4 linked regions of the Homo sapiens genome follow. The protein of the gene in region 4 interacts with the protein of the main gene of each other region in a pairwise test. Each region holds a gene or a part of one and is shown on either strand. Other genes may lie near its edges.

Region 1 (3,794 bases), on a different chromosome or scaffold from region 4:
GTCAATGTGGGGAGTGGCTCAAAGGGGTCTGATGCTGCCTGCTGGGCCCGGGGGGCTGTCTTCCACTACTTCCTGCTCTGTGCCTTCACCTGGATGGGCCTTGAAGCCTTCCACCTCTACCTGCTCGCTGTCAGGGTCTTCAACACCTACTTCGGGCACTACTTCCTGAAGCTGAGCCTGGTGGGCTGGGGTAGGTGCTGCCTGGATGGACAGAATAAACGGCCGGCCCTGAGGGTGCAGAGGGAAATAGCCTTGGGGAGAGAGAGGAGGGGTTCCCAGAGCTGGAGGGATGGCCATCTGGAGGGGACGTGGAGGAGGAAGTGCCAGTAAGCCCCAGTGGTGTCATGCCATTTCCCCTTGTGCCCAGGCCTGCCCGCCCTGATGGTCATCGGCACTGGGAGTGCCAACAGCTACGGCCTCTACACCATCCGTGATAGGGAGAACCGCACCTCTCTGGAGCTGTGAGTGGCGGCTGTGGGAGCAGGGGTGATGCCAGCTCCCCGGCTACACATATTGGGGCTGGAGAGAGGTGGGGAGAGGAGGGATTTCTAGGAAAATCTAGACCAAATATGTCAAGACCAGAAGAATCCTCAGATCCAGCTAGCTCATGGCACAGAGAAGTAAACTGAAGCCTAGAGAGAGAGAGGGGAAGTGAAATGAGAGAGGGGGCCTGAGAAAGGAGAGGGAGAACTGGACCAGGAGGCAGGATGCCTTACTTGAGCCTGGGCCAACACGAGCCCACATGGCACCTTGAGGCAAAGTAAAGAAGGTCACCCCGTCCGCATGCGGGGTGCGCAGCCTGGAGAGTGGAGGGTGTGTTGGATTTCAGCCCCCACCTGCTGCCCAGCCAGGTGTCCTTGTTCAGGCCACCACCTGCCCAGTGATTCACAGTAGCCCTGGGTCTAGTCTGGGCTCTGCCCTGCCTGCTATGTGTGTGATCTTGGCAGGCCCGATCTCTCCCAGGGCCTCAGTCTCCTCATCTGCACCATGGGGGAACTGATCAACATGCTCTTTGAGGCCCTTTGCCCCTGCAGTGCAGAGGGCAGTGGAGCTGAGTTCAGTTTCTAGACTCACACCTTGGGATCCATGGGGCACCCACCACTGGGCCCATGGCTCTGTGCTAAGAGGAGCTGGTGAGGCCTTGGACCTGTCCCCAGGCCTCAAAAGCAGGGGCCCCAGGAGCTGGAGGGGTCACAAAGGTGCAGGCAGTGGGCCAGGTGGGGACTGCAGCGGACTGGCAGTCACAAGCCCATCTAATTAGCGGTCAGTTACTATCCTTCAGGAGGGCATCCACAGAGCTGCCAGGTGTATGATTTTATAGGAGAAGCAGAAATCTAGGTGTTTATACCAAAGCTTCTGATTTTAAAGGCGGCCACTAATTCCGTTTTTTTCACAATGTAATATGGGGCAAATGAAACATGTCTTTGAGGTCACTTTGGCATTAAAGAGACACCAGACTGGAGCCAGGTGACGGCCCCTCCCACAGCGGGAGAGCCAGGGATTGATGGGTGGAAATGGGAGAGGCACCTTCACAGACAGAAAAGCTCAGCCAGGGGACTTCCTGGGTTTGCTGGCCAGAGGTACCACTCCCAGTCCCACCACAGCTGCCCCCTCCTCCAGATGCTGGTTCCGTGAAGGGACAACCATGTACGCCCTCTATATCACCGTCCACGGCTACTTCCTCATCACCTTCCTCTTTGGCATGGTGGTCCTGGCCCTGGTGGTCTGGAAGATCTTCACCCTGTCCCGTGCTACAGCGGTCAAGGAGCGGGGGAAGAACCGGAAGAAGGTGCTCACCCTGCTGGGCCTCTCGAGCCTGGTGGGTGTGACATGGGGGTTGGCCATCTTCACCCCGTTGGGCCTCTCCACCGTCTACATCTTTGCACTTTTCAACTCCTTGCAAGGTGAGGCCCCTGCACCAGGGAGGTGATGGGCTGTGTTGTCTGTCCCAGGAGGTATTGGGAGGTGGGGAAGAGGGTGGTTTGCAAGACACAGGACTCTGTTCAGGCTAGCTGAAGTCAAGGATGTTGATTTCAAATACTCAGAGCAAGGATCCAGGGCAGCAAAGTTTGGCTGCTGTATTAGTCCGTTTGTGTTACTAGAATACAAAGGAATACTCGAGACTGGGTAATTTATAAAGAAAATGGGGTTAATTGGCTCATGGTTCTGCAGGCTTTAGACAAAGCACAACACCAGTATCTGCTCCTGGTGAGGCCTCAGGAAGCTTCCAATCATGGTGGAAGATAAAGGGGAGCCAGCGTATCACATGGCGAGAGTGGGAGCAAGGGAGTGGGGAGGCACCATGCCGTTTTAAACAGCGAGATCTCGCATGAACTCCAAGTGAGCACTCACTCATCACCAAGGGGATAGTGCTAAGCCATGCATGAGGATCCGCTCCAAGGATCCAATCTCCTCCCCTCAGGCCCCACCTCCAACATTGGGAATCACATTTGGACATGAGATTTGGAAGCAACAAACATCCCAGACATATCAGCTGCCTTCATGGGAGCTGCTACCAGAATCAGAAAAAGCCACCCAAACCAAAGCAGATACGTTCTCTATCTTTTTCCTGGAGCTATGGAGTCTCTCACCTAGTGTCTGTGGAAACTCCTTCATTCTCTCTCCACTTACCCTTTACTACCCATGGCCCCAAATTGTTACCCAACATGGCTGCCGTAACCCTACCTGACCTTGCAAGTTGGGTGTCCATCGTCCATCTCTGGTCCAATCAGCTGCGACCAGAAGGGCAGAATCATGTGATATGATGTCCACATGACATGGATGGGATCTCCAGGGATCTATGGAGGTAGGAAGGAAATGCTTGCTGTATTTGTTACTGGCCCCCGCAGGGCCCTTCCTCTGAGATCCCAGCAAAGGGGTAAGAGCAGTCCATGTGCTATGGTTTATATGTGTTCTCTTTGCTCCTTACATCCACAGCCCAGAGAGGCATCACAGTCTGACTGTGAGAGAAACAGCCAAGACAGGAGTGACGAGACTCAACCTGTTCAGGGAAGTCACTAGAAACCCAGGCGTCCTAGATGCAGCGGGTATAAGCCCCCAAGACCAGGACTGGCTCCCAGCGCCCCATGAGAGATGTGTGGCTTAGTGGCTAGGGCCAGGCAGCCCTGGGTCCAAATCCTAGCCCCATCCCTGACCCAGCAAGTCACTCAGCTCCTTCCGTCCTCATTCATCGCGAAATTGGGATAATCCCGTACTTATCTCACCAGCTTTTTTTTTTTTTTAATTGAGATGGAGTCTTGCTCTGTCACCCAGGCTGGAGTGCAGTGGCACGATCTCAGCTCACTGCGACCTCCACCTCCTGGGTTCAAGTAATTCTTCTGGTTTCAGCCTCCTGAGTAGCTGGAACTACAGGCACATGCCACCATGCCCAGCTAATTTTTGAATTTTTAGTAGAAATGGGGTTTCACCATACTGGTCAGGCTGGTCTCAAACTCCTGACCTCAGATGATCTACCTGCCTCAGCCTCCGAAAGTGCTGGGATTACAGGCGTGAGCCACTGTGCCTGGCCTGCCAGATTTCACAATGAACAATGACAATGCATATGTGGGAACTACTAGGTCTTCAATATGTGGGAACTATATTAATAATCATAGAAATTATGACTGTAAGGCCATCTGAGGCTGTCTCCAGGTGGAGAATCATGAGTCCATGCCTGGAGAATCCCAGGGGTTGATGGTTGGGGAGAAATGAACTTTGAAACTATAGCTGACATCGTTATTCTTTCAGAGGTTACCTTAATATGTAAGCCTGCACACTTCACTCTACTAAGTTTC
Region 2 (5,008 bases), on a different chromosome or scaffold from region 4:
TCCAGCTGGAAAACAAACTCCAGTTGAGGCAGCTAACATGTATGGAATCGGGACTCTGTTCTTCCAGTAGATTGCCCAGAATACTGCAGTAACTTAAAAAAAAAAAGAGAGAGAGAGAGAAGAAAAAAGCAGTCTTTGGGGAATAGCAGTGTGATGCTCCTGGAGCACCCTCTGGAGGCCAGAAAAAGGTGACATGGGGCATAGGAAGAATGAAGAGAATTCTGATCATCTCTGCTCTTATGTAGAGGCAGAACTCCACAGATCTCACTTGACTTGGACTGAAAAATGCACTTTATCAGTCATAATCAGGGCAACATAAGAAAGTGCATATCTAATTTCTAGTTTAAAAATGCAAAAGAAATCTAATGTGTTAACGACATTCTCAAATAATTTTGTTTCCTAATTTTAAAAAATTAACATATTTTCTGCCTACATTCTGAATTCTTTTGGGAATTTACTGCAGAGGCTTTTTTAAAAAAATTTAGAAGAAAGATGAGAACATGGAATATTTTCCTTAATAAAATGTACTTTTGTAAACAGGGTTATATACAGTGAATTATTAGTCAATTGTTGAAAAGTAGCCAGCTTTATGTTTAGTAAAACCAAAAATAAATAAAGCTGTCCATTTCTTCTTTTTTTCTAACACCTCACTTTTTCTAAAGCGACAAACACTGACATCTATTGGTATTTTGGTAGCTCGCTTTTTTTTTTAACCCATTAAAACATACACAAGGACACACACAAGTGCAGACATGCACAAAATTAGGAGAAATCCAAAATATCATTAGTTCCTTCAAGAAAACTTCATTGTATGTACCTTAGTGGCATATTTTTTATCTGGGTAAAAGAAATCCGTTTTCAAGCTAATACTATCTGATTTATTTTTTTGTTTTTTCTATTTGTCAAGAGGGGGAGCTCCAGGGTTAACTAAACTACCAGAAGTTCATTCATTTGCGTCTTTGAGCAAATAAAGTGACTCACCCAAAATACTGGCATTTGGTTTGTTTTCATCTATCCTAACAGAACATGATAAACTATCAGTACTGTTCAAATCCAATTTAACTTGTTACTTGGAGAATGCTAACAGAACATTGATTTGGTAAGAATCTATCACACTTCCAGAACTTTAAACACTACCTATAGCCATTCTAGGAAGGCTGAGGAGGAAATAAAAAACTAGAAATGTGAATTTAATATATTCCTTATTTTGTTTATATTTAGAAACACCTGCACTCAATTCTATGAACATTGCTGGCAATATACTGTTATGCTTGATAAAAAGATAGTGAGGGGCAGGTTGGTGCACACTTTTGTTTTTCAATTGCTGCAATTTATACGAGTCCCAAAAGAGAAGATTATGTATTCTATACAATAAAGTGAGGTTTAAGCATCAACTCTTAAGTGTTGCCAGAAAAAAGAGTCATGTTTCAAAATCTTCTCATAGCTTGAAACCTCAACATTTTTCTGCCAGAGATAAAATTATGTTGCACCTCACTCTACTTTCAATATTTAGATTGAGTTCAGTACTGTTTTCATAATGTATATATGCAGTTATGGAATTTGACACTCTTATCCACTTTTCTCTAGTTTTACAGGTAGTACATATTAATATTTATAACCACTGTAATCTGAGGTCAGCTTTGGATATTTTTTACCATAAAAGGTAAATTTTGGAAATTATATCAAATATCTTTGCAAAGACACAGATAATTCATTTCTTAAGTAGTTTTATAAAGACAGCTAATATTACTGGGCACTTATTACATGTTGGTTGATGTTCAGAGTGCTTTTCATGGATTATTTCCTTTAAGCTTCATGAAACCCTCATGATAATAATAATAGTATTATTATCCCCATATTGCAGAAAAAGGAAATTTAGGCACAGAAAGATTAAGTAACTTTCCCATGACTACATATTTAAGGAACAGCCTAATTAGGATTTAAACCCAGGCAATCTGGCTGAAGAGCTAAGGACTAGGCCATCTGGCATCTTGCTGCCTAATAGCAAGGAATTTTCTTATTTTCGAAAGGACGGATGACAAAATACACAATATACATCTGTTTTACTGCCTGGAACATGGTAAGAATTCAATAAATAGCAGGTCCCTCATTAATAAACATAAAAGTGTCCAGCACAGTGCCTGGCATGTAGTAGGTATTCAGTGTTCATGTTTGTCTAATATTTTTTGGTTCTCTATATATATTTTTTCTCCTCTTTTTCATTAGTGTTATCTGACCATTTCATGGGTATGAGAAGTATTCATGTCTGAATATACAACTTTCTTCCGCTCTTCCTGCTATTTTAATTCTGCAAAATAAGTCCTATTTCATTCTGTGAATAATCTTTAATGTTTTTAATAATTACATAGGCTAGGTGGTTACAAGTAACCAGGTTGAAACAGATCACTGGACATTCCTCTTGTTCTGTAAACACAGGCTGCCCCGTTAGGGTCAGGGTACTTTATACGCAAGAATGTTTACAAGCACTTCAGCCTGCAGAGCCACTTAGTGAGGGAAACAGGTGGGTGATGTCATTGGGGAAACACACAGCCTGCTTCTACCTATTTGGGATACTAGGTTTCTCAATGTTTCCATCACCCAGACTCACAAATGCCCCTCCTACCAGGAGTGAAGGGAGACAGGATAGTTCTAGAATCTGGCTAGGCATGATAGTGAATTTTTCCCAGGTTATTTAAGAGGAAAAAGAAAAAAGACAGAATTCCGTGCAGAGGTGCAGAGTAAGAACAACATATCGACAGAGAATCACAAAGGAAGCTTAGAGTCAAATACCAATTGGCCAAAAATTAAAAAAAAAAAAAAAAAAAGCGGCCAAGCGCCGTGGCTCATGCCCGTAATCCCAGCACTTTGGGAGGCCGAGGCATGTGGATTGCGAGGTCAAGAGATCGACACCATCCTGGCCAACATGGTGAAACCCTGTCTCTACTAAAAATACAAAAATTAGCTGGGCATGGTGGCGCACACCTGTAGTCCCAGCTACTCAAAAGTCTGAGGCAGGGGAATCACTTGAACCCAGGAGGCAGAGGTTGCAGTGAGCCGAGATTGCACCCACTGCACTCCAGCCTGGCGACAGAGCGAGACTCCGTCAAAAAAAAAAAAAAAAAAAAGCTCTGGTTTTGTAATTCAGGCTTCAAGAGAAAAAGTCTGTTGAGCTGAATCAGTATGAAGAGGCTGGATATGGGAGGTCCAGCACCAAGGAGACCCAGGCTGTTACAGGGCTCTTGGTACGTGGATCAGTGATACAGCACCCAAGACTATTCTTAGCTTGCTTATTTTGAGCAAAGAAAAGGAATCAATGACTCCAAGGGCTTGGGACCTATTAGAGCTATTATTATGGAATAGATAATTGTGTTGAACATCTGCAGCCCCAATAGTGTGCAATTCAACATTTAGTTAATTGTATAAAAGTGCAGATGCTCTGAAATAGCCATGTATGTATCGCATATCAGTCACTCATGCCATATGAAAGTTAAAGAAGCCTTTTCCCCCTGAAAATTTCCCTCCAACAGATGTGTTTATGCCTATGCGTACAATATAGCACACAGCGGGGCTGAGTGGCTGAGATCCCACCCCATTATCTCTCCCCTGACTGTCATGAGGCAATGTTAAAACAGCTGAAGAGAGGCTTGGCTATTGCATACATATCATCAAGGACAGACAGTTGCAGTGGCTGTTTTAAGAAAGGAGTGAAACTTGGAACTGACAGGCACTAAGATGGGAGCAATACAAGAGAAACTTGTCCTCCTAAGTCCTAATTTGGGCTGGCACGGCAAGTGTGAATACTAGAGTTATGGCATCTATAGGTCGTTCCTTTGGGAATGCCTGAAACCTAGAGTGTGGGTTTTTCTCACAAACCATTATAGTCATCAGGTATGAATTCTCCTAAGACAAGGAAAACTACACTGGCACTTACCATTATAAGGAAAATGACAAAGAAGGAAAGAAACACTGATTCTGAAGCATTGTATTTAATGCCATGTGCTTCTATATAAAGCTGGTTTCAAGTTGTTGACCATTCTTTCTGAATCAAATAAAGAATACATATTCTTATCTGGTTTAAAAAGCACAAGATGCTTCGAAGGGGGTAAAAAGTCCCTCCCCAAAAAAGATTATAATCTGGTGGAAAACAGAGACAAATATACTAAAAACTAACCTACAGCCAAATTCACCCCAATTTTTCAGGGAAGACAGTTAAGCAAATGTCACTTAAAGATACTGACTTAGCTGGTTTACAGGGAATCACTGCTGTACCACTGGAAAGCAGATGAGAGCCACCAAGGAAGCTCTGGTGCTCTGTGTCAAGAGAGCGTAGCTAATCACAAGACAGCTGCCTACCTAGTAGATGAGATCTGGAGGGCACAGAAATGCCTGCCCCTCCCCCACTGAACTTGTCAAGTTGCTGTGTTACGGTACTGCTGCTGGGAGCCCTTGACAAAATGCACACCTATTACCTGAACAGGATGCTACTTCAGACCGCTGGCCCCTTCTTAATTCATTAGACCATCTACAGAGGACCACAGAAACTTCTTCTGAAGCCAATGAGCAGGGAGACAGGAGAACACAACCACAAACAGTGATAAGAGCCCCCAAAATAACTCTTTACAACGATTTGAGCTAGGTCTGAAATCTCCGTAATGTACTATGATGACCTTAGAAAGGACAGTAGACAAAGTCACGCAGGGAGGTAACTAATCCAGCTCCCCAATTTCCTATCTTGTTGAATAAAGTGCTATGGTCTCTCCCCAAAATATAGGGTAAAAATAAGGGAAAATTCAATACACCCTCATGAGGGGCAATGATCAGTAATTGAAGTGAATATGATCAGCAGGATCTTATTAAAGAAGCAAGCACAAGAATGGCCAGTGGTGAAACAATTACTCTCTGTTCAATTTCTGTTTTGCTCAAAACTCTGCTGAAGGTCTCTGCCAATAACCCAGGTTCTGAAATGCTATCAGTGATACCAGTAAGAAGACCAAGCAAATGTGGTTTG
Region 3 (5,008 bases), on a different chromosome or scaffold from region 4:
AGGCGTGAGCCACAGCGCCCAGCCTGTCCTCACTTCTTTCTTTCCTCAACTTGGATTCAATGGCTCATGATGGATGTCACTCTTCTGAAACTCCTCACTCCCTCTGGGCTTGTCACTTGCCAAAAACTTCACTCTAGCTAAGCTATCTTGTTGCCTACTCCTTGTCTGTAACTGAGCCATGGCATGGGGCTGCAAAAAAAACGCACAACCACGCTGTTGGTCTCACCTTATATTTATGGCCACAAACCTAAAGTGGGTTTCACATTGTCCAACAATCTTTCTCTAAGCCCCTAGTTATGTCCTCCTTCTTCTTTTCCAAAATGACTATTTTATATTTCTTCATTTTAGCCCCATATGCACTCCCGTCCCTTCACCATCATCATTCTCAGTGGTTGACTTTGCCTCCTACTCATTGAGAAAACAGAAGCTATGATAAAATGGAAGCAATGAGAATGGAACTGTCGTGTTTCCATCACTAAGTGTACCCAATATCCTGCATCTGAACCCACATTCCCAGTCTTCTCTTTAATTATGGTTGGAGCATCCCAGCCCTGATCAAAGGCCAGACTCCTCTTCTCGATTCCATCTCCCCTCACCTACTTCATTGGCTACTCCTCATCTCCTGTGCTATCTCTGCCTTCTTTGCTAATGTCTAAAGATAGGAGTCCCCCAAGGCTCAGTCCTTGGATCTCTATTCTTTATTTGTTCTTTCATAGGCAATCCCATCCATTTGCATGGCTTTAAGTATCTAACTGCCTGACAGCTCTGCTTGAATATCTACCAGTCACTTCAAACCTCTCACGTTCCCCCCATGCTCTTGCACTTCAACCAGTCTTCCCTATCTCCAGCTACCCAATCGATTAAGACAAAAACCTAGGTTATCCCTGATTTCTCACTTCCCCTCCTCACTCCCGCTATGTCTTTACCCAATCAAACAGAAAATGTCACCAACTTACCTCCAAAACCTACCATTTTGTTCACTTCTCTCCACCATGACTTCTAATCTGAGGCACCATCACTTTTCTCTTGGATTCTGCAAATAGTCTGACTTCCACTCTTGTCCCATGAACCCATTCTTCTAGGGGATTTTAGAAAATATAAATCCAATTATGTCATTTCCTTCCAAAGCTTCCATTGCCCTTGGAATAACCAGATTCATTTCTAGGACCTTCATTTTCTCACCCTCCACTTTCCTCTTATATTTCAGGCACACAGATATCCTTTCTATTCTTAGAGCAAACTAAATGATTTCTTTAAGACATCTTAATTTCCATTAGGTGCTTTTTATTTTCTGCTTGAAGTGCTCTCTTTTGGTTATTAAGGTCTCAGTTTGAATGTCACTTCCCCAAAGAAGCCTTCCCCAACCCTGAAATCCCAGATAGCCCTTCTGAGTTGCTCTGCTATATCACCACATTAAATTTCATGCACATAACTCAACACTTTTCAAAATTATCTTTTTTGTGTATTTGTTTACTTGTTCATTGTATGTCTCCCTCCCCTGGAGTGTAAGCTAGCTGAGGGCTAGAATTTTGTTTGTCTTATTCACCGCTGTATTCCCAGCCCCCAGAATACCTGACACATGGTCAAAGTTTGTTAAAATGAATGAATGAATGAATGAATGAATGGAAGAGACTCAGACAGGTTAAGTAAATTGTCCAAAGTCACAGAGCTAACAAGTCATCAAGCCATGGTTTGAATGCAAAATTTGGAGCTTTGTGTGGCTCCAAAGCCCATGTTTCCTGAACACTTCCCTCTACTGTCACAAAAAGCCATGTGTTCAGGACTTCAATTTACAAAATACTTTTGCATGCATTACCTAATTTGCTCCACATTGTAACCCGGTATGATATAATCATAGCTTTGCTTTTTCCAGATGTGGAAACCAAGGCTCAGAAAGGTTTAGTAATTAATCCAAGATCCCTCTCAGAGAAATAGAAGGGCTGGTAAGTAGCAAGGCAGGAATTCACTTCCCAGGAATTATGTATGGGTATGTGGCACCCAACCACACCACCTCTGAAGCTCACATTCTCACGCTGATAATCAAGGGTATTTTATACATGAGAACGGCTCATCAGGGCCATTCATTAGGAATCTAAGTGGGGAGCTGGAAGCACATTAAATGTACTGAGGCTAGGCCAGGTGTGGGGGCTCACATCTGTAATCCCAGCACTTTGGGAGGCCAAGGCAGGCAGGATTTCATGACCAGCCTGGGCAACATGACGAGACTCCATCTCTACAAAACAAACAAACAAACAAACAAACAAAAAAAAAACAAAAAAAAACAACTAGGTGTGGTGGTGTTCATCTGTAATCCCAGCCACTTGGGAGGCTGAGCTGGGAGGATCACTTGATCCCAGGAGGTCGAGGCTGCAGTGGGCTGAGATTGTACCACTGCACTCCAGCCTGGGTGACAGAGTGAGGCCCTGTCTCAAAAAAAGAAAGAAAACAAAAAGAAAAGTACTGAGGCTAAACAAAGCCTTGCTCCTGAAGAAAGGAGAGGTGTGGGGGTCCTATGGCAACTACTGTGGGTTTGCACAAAGGTCCCCAGATCATAAAACAAAGTGGTTTGGGGATCTTGGAAGGTTACAGGGGTGGACTTCAGTGTCTTGTACGAGACAAGGCATTTTAGAGTAAATTGGACATGTCCTAAGGTAAGGATCTGTGTCCTTCCACAGGTCTAGCTTTCTTGCCTGCCAGTGTGTCCTACCTCATTGGCACCAACCTCTTTGGTGTGTTGGCCAACAAGATGGGTCGGTATGTAGCCTCGGGATCTGGGACGAACAGTAGAAATGTAAGATGGAAGAGCGCCCGTTCCTGATCTTGGAATGATGAACAGCTTCCATACGGTTGAAAGTTTAGGATGAGTACACACCGATAAAAACTTCCCACTGGGAGGATGGGCAGTGAGTGAGTGGTGAGGGTGGTATGGAGAATGGATTGTCCTGAGCTCTGAGCTGATTGTTATAGAAGAGGCAGTGGATACATGAGGGGCACCCCTTACTTTCCATCCATTTGCTGTCCAGTTGAGGAGATAAAATAACCACAACAGAGAACAGCTATGAAAAATGCAGTACTTTGGGAAAGTAGTTTTCAAATTATGTTCTGTGGAATCCTAAGGAGTTCTATAGAGGCACCCCAGAGGCCACTGAGGAGGAAGGGTTGGGGGCCAAGAGCTATGAGTCTCCATTCTGTCCCTTCACTACAATAAGGACAGCTTTAATTTTATCTTTGGAGTTTAGCATCAAGATTTTAGAAGCACTGCCATAGGACATCAGAGAAGGAAAGAAGTTTGGTACTTTCTGTGTTTTTTGAGACAGACCTCAAGGACCAAATAAAATAGGACAGGTAGGAGGCAGTCTGAGCTGGGCAACAGCATGAGTTAAGTTTGAGGGCTACTTCTAAGGAACAAGTGCCTCCTGAGTCAGCTGATTCCTCCTGTAAGGGAAGGAAGAGTGTGTCCCACGGCACCTCCTCTGCCTTTCTATAGAAAAAGGGATGGAGCCAGGGGAGACAAGGAAAGGGCAGGGAGAGAGCTCATTTGGGTACAAACTGGTCATGTAGGGATGCTGTCCTCAGGTCCTAAGGGGTTGCTGGGATTAGGGCTGGTGGGACAGGTCAGCATGGCGGTGATGGGGTACAGGTGGAGGGGAGCTCTCCCCTAGTGGTGTTTGATGATGGCTTTTTTCTTCCAGGTGGCTGTGTTCCCTAATCGGGATGCTGGTAGTAGGTACCAGCTTGCTCTGTGTAAGTATAAGAAGACCTGGGGGAGGGGAAGGAGAGAGAGAGCGAGAGACAGACAGACAGAGAGAGAGAGAGAGAGAGAGAGAGAGGGAGAGAGAGAGAGAGAAAGACACAGACATTTAAAGACTAATTTCCTTTAAGATGAGCAGAGATGGCTTGGCAAGGACTGTCAGAAAGACTGTTTCTGAATAGGCAGGAATTTAGCACGGGGGAAGAGGCCACCAGCTGCAGTGGCTTTCCTTTGAGGGGAAGTGGGAAAGGAGAGGAAGAGGGCTGTAGGGCAGCTGGAGCCGGAGGTCTGAGGCTGTACATGTGGGCATATGAAGTGATACATGTTGGTATCCATTTCTGGGGATGGCAAAATGGTGCGTTTTATGACTTCATTTACTCATCCCACCCTGACAGAGCCTCATAAATCCCCAGGGAACCATCATCTATGTCCCAGTCTCTGGCACCAGAGGCTTGATAGAAGAAGAAAGAAAGAAGGACTTTTCCATTTCCAAGAATCCCCCTCAAGTTCTCAAAGCCTTCATTTCCTCCTCTCCCCAGTGGGGATGAGAAACACACAAACCTCCTAGGCCTGAGGGAGAGAAGAACAGGGCTACAAGGCACTGTAAACTGTGCTCAAGACCAGCTGGAGGTCCTGAGCAGGAGCATGGGATCCGGGTTCCATGGCAGGTTTTGCCACTTTCTATGCATGTGACTTTGAGCAGGTTACTTCATCTCCGTGTGCTCAGCATCCTCATCTATGTAGAGAGGGTTCTGATGGTGTCCACAGGGTTGTCAAGGTAATCCAAATAAACCACAGTGTCTGGCACATGGTGAGCCCATAGTGAATCTCAGCCAATACTATTGATAATTTATAAACATTTCTTGAGGCATGAACCCTAAAAATTGTTATCAGCCAGCAGCATCTAAACGGTATGCTAAACCCTTAAGGGGTGAGTGTCCTGGGGTAGCAGGTTTGAATGGCAGGTACCCAGAGAGGGAGGTAAGGAACCTGAAAAAGAGGGAAGAAGGGGTTTTTGTTGGGGGATTGGGAGGGCAATGGGAATGAGTCTCACAAGCTTCCTGACAGGGGACCCAAGCCACACCACCTGCCCCCTCTAGCTTACAGCTAACTGGTTGTTGGGGCCTCTTCTCTATCTTCTTTTTCCAACAGCTACCAAGTTAGAAGTCTAAATGAAACCTTTCAGTGATGTCCATAATGGAAAACAGAGGCAACTTTATTCCATGAAGAATGAGACCAGGAGTGTATGTTTAGGTG
Region 4 (5,731 bases):
GAGGAAGAGTGCCACAGATAAGGGCACGATTGAGGATGCACATTGGGTCCCAGGTCCTAAGGGTGGACGATACTTGGGCCAGGTACATATGATGGAGCAGCCACTGAGTTTTCATTTATTCAATAACAGAGTATCTAAAGTACTTTGAATTATAGATCATCTCTAACAAGGTACTGGACTGCCACTACTTCTGATGTGGAGTGCACTGCTGTTCAACAATTGCAGTAAACACATTGTATCATGGAATCCGGGATTGGAAGGAACTTTAGAAGTTGTCTGAGCCAACCTTCAATGCGGGATTCATTTTTACAACAACCAATTAAATGTTCGTACAGCCTCTGCTTAATCACCTCCAGGAACAGGGAACTTACTACTTCAACCATATAGAATCCCTTAGGATTGGAAGCAAGGAGGAACACTGATTCAGTAGTGTCTGCACAAAAGATTTATGGGGAAAATGATAGCTCATTAATTTTTGCCTTGATTTGGAAGGGGAATGTTCCAAGTGAGTCTTTGGGATAATGATGGAACCAGAAAGGAGCAAAAGAGCAGTAGCTGATTATTCTCTGCTCTGAAACACAATGCCATTATTGAACAGCAAAACATTGTCTGCAAGCCTGTTGTCGTCTGAGAACAGTGGCTGTTACCCTGGTAACCAGACTGTGATGCCTCCATCCAAAAGTGGCTGTTTGCCAAGCAGTGTAGTTTTGGCTGGCTTGCAGTAAGTGGGTGTAGCCCAGGCAAAAAGTGTGGCGGCAGAGCGGGGGTCCAGTTTTATAAAATGCCCGAAGACTAACTGAGTCCCATCAAAATGGCAAGAATGCCCCAAGAATACCAGGAGCCAAAAATAAACCAGATCCCAGCCAGCATGTTCACCTAGTCTTCCTGGAGACACTGACTAAAATAATCAAGTGCAGCCTTCTCTACCTCACTTCTCCCTTTGGCCGTGCAGAGCCAGAGGAGTTCTTGGAAAGCCAGGCAGTTTGAAAGGTCTACCCTGCTTTAGGGGGCCTTGGGCTTGGCTCTGAGCTAGGAAAGCCAGAAGTTTACTTAACAGGCTGACAACTGGAACTGCTCTCTCAGAGCGATCTGAGTAATAACAACCTCAACCCTGGGAGGTGGGTGGGAGGGGAAATATAGTCTCCAAACCCATTAAGGTAGAACTCCAGCCAGTAACATCACTTTCCCCCATTGCTTTTGTCTATCGTCCTGAAGCCTTGAAAGCCATCCCCTGGGTACAGGTCTTTGTCTTGAAAGAAAGCAACAGTAGAAATGCCTTCCCTGCCCACAGCACTTCAGGTCTAAAGAAGACCAAGTGAGGACAGTGACATGATCAGGAAGGGTCACAGCAGCCATGGTAGGTGAATGGAGCAGCTTTTCCTTCCTTTCCTGCTTTCAGAGCCTACTCAGTGCCAAACTTACATCAAAAGCTCAGCAAGTACTGATTGATTAATCCCTCTTGCCTACGGCAAAATGGCCCTGAGGGCTATCTCTCAGCTCTGCACTGGCCTCTGAGCTGTCTGCCAGGCAGGGCTCTAGAAAAGAGTCCCAAGGAAGAGAATAAGGTTCCCCAAATCAGCTTCACACTGCAACAAGGAGAGAGGAGGAAATGGTGGGAGACTGACCTGAGGAACAAGGTATGGCTACTATTGTCTCTAGTACCAGTTACTTCCCTTTCATCTTCCCATTCGTGGGCAAGGTGGAGACAATGTGCCAAGGATAAGTTTTAACAATCAAAGTCCTACCTCAGCTTCCCAATGCTTGCACATAAATTGGAATGTGTACATCATTCATTCTGTCTCTCTCTGTGTGTGTGTGTGTGTGTGTGTGTGTGTGCGCGTCTGAAGAGGAGTGGGGAGTATAGGAAACAAGATAGTCCAGATGCTGTTGCCGTGGTAATACTAAATCGTGTCCAAAGAGGAGGCTGAGATTCCTTTTTAGTTAACCTTGTCCACATGATTTGACTATCCAGCAGGCTTGGATTCCCAGGCCCCAGAGACTTCGGGACTGTTTTCCAGCACTTGAATGTGGTATATAAGTGCTGATATCAAAAGGGATATGTAGGAAAGACAAGATTATAGGCAGGGCATTGTCTGACCAGGACGAGGCCCGAAGCAAAAGTCTTTGTTTGTCTCTGGCACCTCTTGATAATTGTTGTTTTACTCCTAGAACCCACCCACTGATCCCCATCCATCCCTAGTACCAGTCACGGCTGCTCTAGCATTTCGGCCTTGTCAACTACTGCAGGCCCTGATCAAGGAGGCCTCTGTTCATGGGGTAAGGTTAAGGGGTGGGTTCTGGGAGGAGGGTAAGACTGTAGTGCAGATTCGAGACCTAGGGAGGTGGGGCCAGTTTCTCACTCAATGAGCCTGCCTGTTGTTTAGCTCTATTGTATAGGGTTCTTCTATCTCTCCCTTTGTCAGCTGGATTCAAGGGACAGGCTGGGAATTGTGCAGGGTACAATTGGTCTCTTTCTACCATTCCTTTCGATGAAAGCCCTTCCTCTCCTTCCTTTGATGAGTTCCCAGATTCACACTGAATTTCCATCATGGAGCTGGTCCTTGAGGCGGGCCCAGGGCATGGGAAAGGAGGGAGGGAGGGTTGGGAGCTCTTGGTGCCTGCTTAAAGAGACAGCATCAGGATCAACACAGTCCCTTGATGAACCTGGATCTGTGTAAGTCACATTGGTTCTGTTGATCTCTGTCAGACCGCTGTGAAGAGCGCTGGTGAGAAGGGCTTAAAGTTGGAGTATCAACTATCACAGATTGATTAGACTTGTTTTGGGAGTTTGTATACAAATGTAGCCAACCATGACATGATCTTTTCCCTTTGCTTACATTTTGCCCACACAACTTCGTTATATCCATTTTAACACTTGCTTATAGGTAGCTTTAGATTTTGATTCACAGACATATGTTTGTTCACCCCAACAGGATTTCAAGTTTTCTAAAGAAAGGGACTGGCCTTTTAATTCCCTTCTGTTTCTCCTAATGTCTATGTCACTGCTAGTGTGCTTAATTCTTGTACTGAATTCACATAAACAGAAATGAAAGAAAAACACTGGAGGGGGTCATTATTTTTCTCTATGACCTTTCATCAAAGTCAGGTGGCTTAATCTGACTGAGTTGCATTGAGAAATGTTATTACTATATGGTTCTTTTATGCCAACTCTCTCATCTCGCAGTCTGTACTTAGACTGGAAATGTGAGAATGTCTCTTGAGAGAGCCAAGGAACTTCTCCCCTAGAATCTCTTCCAGCCTTCTTGAATCAAACTCACACCCTTTCAACCAGGAGGGGTTCTGAAATGGAGAGCTTTTGGCTTTAGGCTATTGTTCACACATACCCAAGGGACATTTCTTGGACTGTGAAAAATCAAAGGGAGCCCAATGGATCTTTTCTCAGAATGCTTTGATTGTCAACTACTTTGATGAAAAAATAATTTCTTGCAGGCTCTGAGTTTTTCTCAGTTAGAATCTAAAATCTGATTCTTGCTTGGACAGACTGACTGAGATTCTTCACTTCTGCTGAACTTAAATGCCCCCAAAGCAAACATTTCATCTAGGTTGTGAAGAGATGAACATCTGATGCTTATGCTGATATTACTGAATTGTTTATAGCTTAATAGTGATAGATTTATCTAAAGTCATTTATTTCAGACTTTACATTAGAAACTCATTAAAGCCTACTTCTTTCTTGTCCCTTGCTTTGAGCTGTAGTGGAGCAGAAAAGGGGATGCTAAGTTATTCAAGTTCTAAGAAAATAGAGGAAAAATGGATGTAAAAAGAAAGGCTATGATCTGGTGACTCAGAATTGCTCCTAAGGCTTAGCCATTTATCACCCAGTAAGAACACAATCCATGACACTCTCAGGTTATTTGGATGATGATTGAGGGATCAGATACACTCAAGAGGATGTTTCCCTCTCATCTTTGCAACCCTAGAGGTGGCATCACCTAACGCTTAAAGTGGAGTTCTCTTTTGGCTAGCAAGAGTTCAAGTTCCTCCATCCCTGACCATACCTGCACAAGCACTTAGCCCTTCCCAGATGAAAATGCTGGGATGAGTGAGTAGGCCCAAGATGGTCACTTGCTAGGGTGGATGGCTCTTCTTACCCTCGGCTAAACAAACAGTCCTGCCATTGTTCCCTGAGTCTGACCCCCTCCCCACCCCCCGGCTGCAGGCCCCTGTGGAATACCAATCAGGCTCCTGAGATCTCAGGAAAGAACAAGGCTTCTTTGTCCGGGGGAGCTATGGAGGGCTCTGTCCAAGCCCTGACCCTGTGCTGGGGAGAAAGGGAACAGTGGGGTCACTGACCTTCTTCTCCCCCCATCCCCAGGCTTCAGAGACTTTCTTTACTAGAAAAGTCTAAGAGTTTGGGGGTGGGGAGGAGTTGGATAGGCAGAGAAGGAAAATGGCAGTACTGTTTACTTCTAAGCTCCTTTTCTTGACTTATAGGCTGAATCTAGTATCTTAACCTGTTGAGAAAGAGGAAGATCAATTTCTGGAATGTTTTCTGAGAACAACAATCGATTTCAGTTGTTGTGTTTTTCTCTGTGGTATACATGTGTGTATGTGCACATTTGTACACATGCATGCATGTGCGTGTGCACACACACAGACACACCCATGGGCCAGCTCTGAAAAGACACTCTTCCCAAGCACGTTTGCAAAGTTCATGCTGAGTAAACTCAGCCTCCACTCACAGCAGCACAGCTACAGATTGCTTCTTATAGAGGCCAAGTTTCCTGGCAGCAATGCTTTAGTTCTTGGAAAAGGAAGTTCTGCTCCAAATGTTAGCTGCTTACTTTGTTTGGCTTGGGCTTCTGAGGCTCATCTTTGGTGTGACACTCTTTGAAGGCCAAGAAAGGGCTGTCATTTCAGGGGATGGTGGGTAATAGGACTCACTCCTTTTGTGTCTCTGAGAACAGAGGCAAATGCCTCTACCTCGATTTTCCCATGACAGAGATAATTTGATCTTTCCAAATCTGTTCACACTGATGCAATTCAGCCATGTAAATCACTAGGTATTCATGCTCTCTGGGCTAAAAACAAACTGTAACTAATGTTAACAGAATCAGGAAAAGGAGTCCCCTTTCCCTGGTACCCTATAGAAAAGTGAGTGTGGCTTGGAGAAATGCTTGAATACAAAAATCCAAGCCTAAGTAATTAATACAATTTATTTTTATTGTACAAGCTGTCACAACCTGCTTATTCAAAAATAGCAGCTTCCCAGTACATTTGCTGAGTATTTGTGTGTGTGCATGTGTATACTGTGTTTATAGATATATAAAATCAGTGGGTATATATACATATATTTATATATATACATACATATGAATTAAGACATTTTTTCTGAAGAGCTTAACATTCTCATTTCTTCTACATTTTAGGGATCTGGCCGAGAGGCCAGAGGAAGCCATTCTTTTCCTCATCTAGTCAGTCATCTACTTGGCATTTGCTAAGGTTCACTCCATATGACATCTTAGAGCATGGGACTAGTACTTGGAACACAGCTGCTTTCAGAGCCTGTGACTTCTTGTGTGCCTCTCCTGTTTCTCAGCAACACTGGCATAGGGCCTGGGATACCAGGTCTGGGGATCTCAGGGACTCTTAGCACTTTAAGACACATGTGTTCCCAGGCCCTGGTGTGTTCCTCTAGTGCCAGAAAGATGTTTCATGCTTTGCTGACTTTGTATAAAGTCTGTTTGTAGCTGTTTTGACAGAATCTCAG

Evidence for each region. Proteins that work in one complex are often made in the same cells at the same time.
Region 1: the proteins of PLP1 (region 4) and ADGRG3 interact in binary tests that used the Homo sapiens proteins (3 or more experiments, as listed by UniProt).
Region 2: the proteins of PLP1 (region 4) and NRG1 interact in binary tests that used the Homo sapiens proteins (3 or more experiments, as listed by UniProt).
Region 3: the proteins of PLP1 (region 4) and SLC18A1 interact in binary tests that used the Homo sapiens proteins (3 or more experiments, as listed by UniProt).

What each region holds. Positions count from the first base shown.
Region 1 is NC_000016.10:57,684,023-57,687,816, forward strand, and holds part of ADGRG3 (adhesion G protein-coupled receptor G3 isoform 1 precursor), read left to right. Parts: coding exon 1-190; intron 191-367; coding exon 368-461; intron 462-1,620; coding exon 1,621-1,904; intron 1,905-3,794. UniProt on the Homo sapiens protein: Adhesion G-protein coupled receptor (aGPCR) for glucocorticoid hormones such as cortisol, cortisone and 11-deoxycortisol.
Region 2 is NC_000008.11:32,550,028-32,555,035, reverse strand, and holds part of NRG1 (pro-neuregulin-1, membrane-bound isoform isoform HRG-alpha proprotein), read right to left. Parts: intron 1-5,008. UniProt on the Homo sapiens protein: Direct ligand for ERBB3 and ERBB4 tyrosine kinase receptors. Concomitantly recruits ERBB1 and ERBB2 coreceptors, resulting in ligand-stimulated tyrosine phosphorylation and activation of the ERBB receptors.
Region 3 is NC_000008.11:20,148,412-20,153,419, reverse strand, and holds part of SLC18A1 (chromaffin granule amine transporter), read left to right. Parts: intron 1-2,675; coding exon 2,676-2,754; intron 2,755-3,692; coding exon 3,693-3,744; intron 3,745-5,008.
Region 4 is NC_000023.11:103,778,634-103,784,364, forward strand, and holds part of PLP1 (myelin proteolipid protein), read left to right. Parts: intron 1-5,731.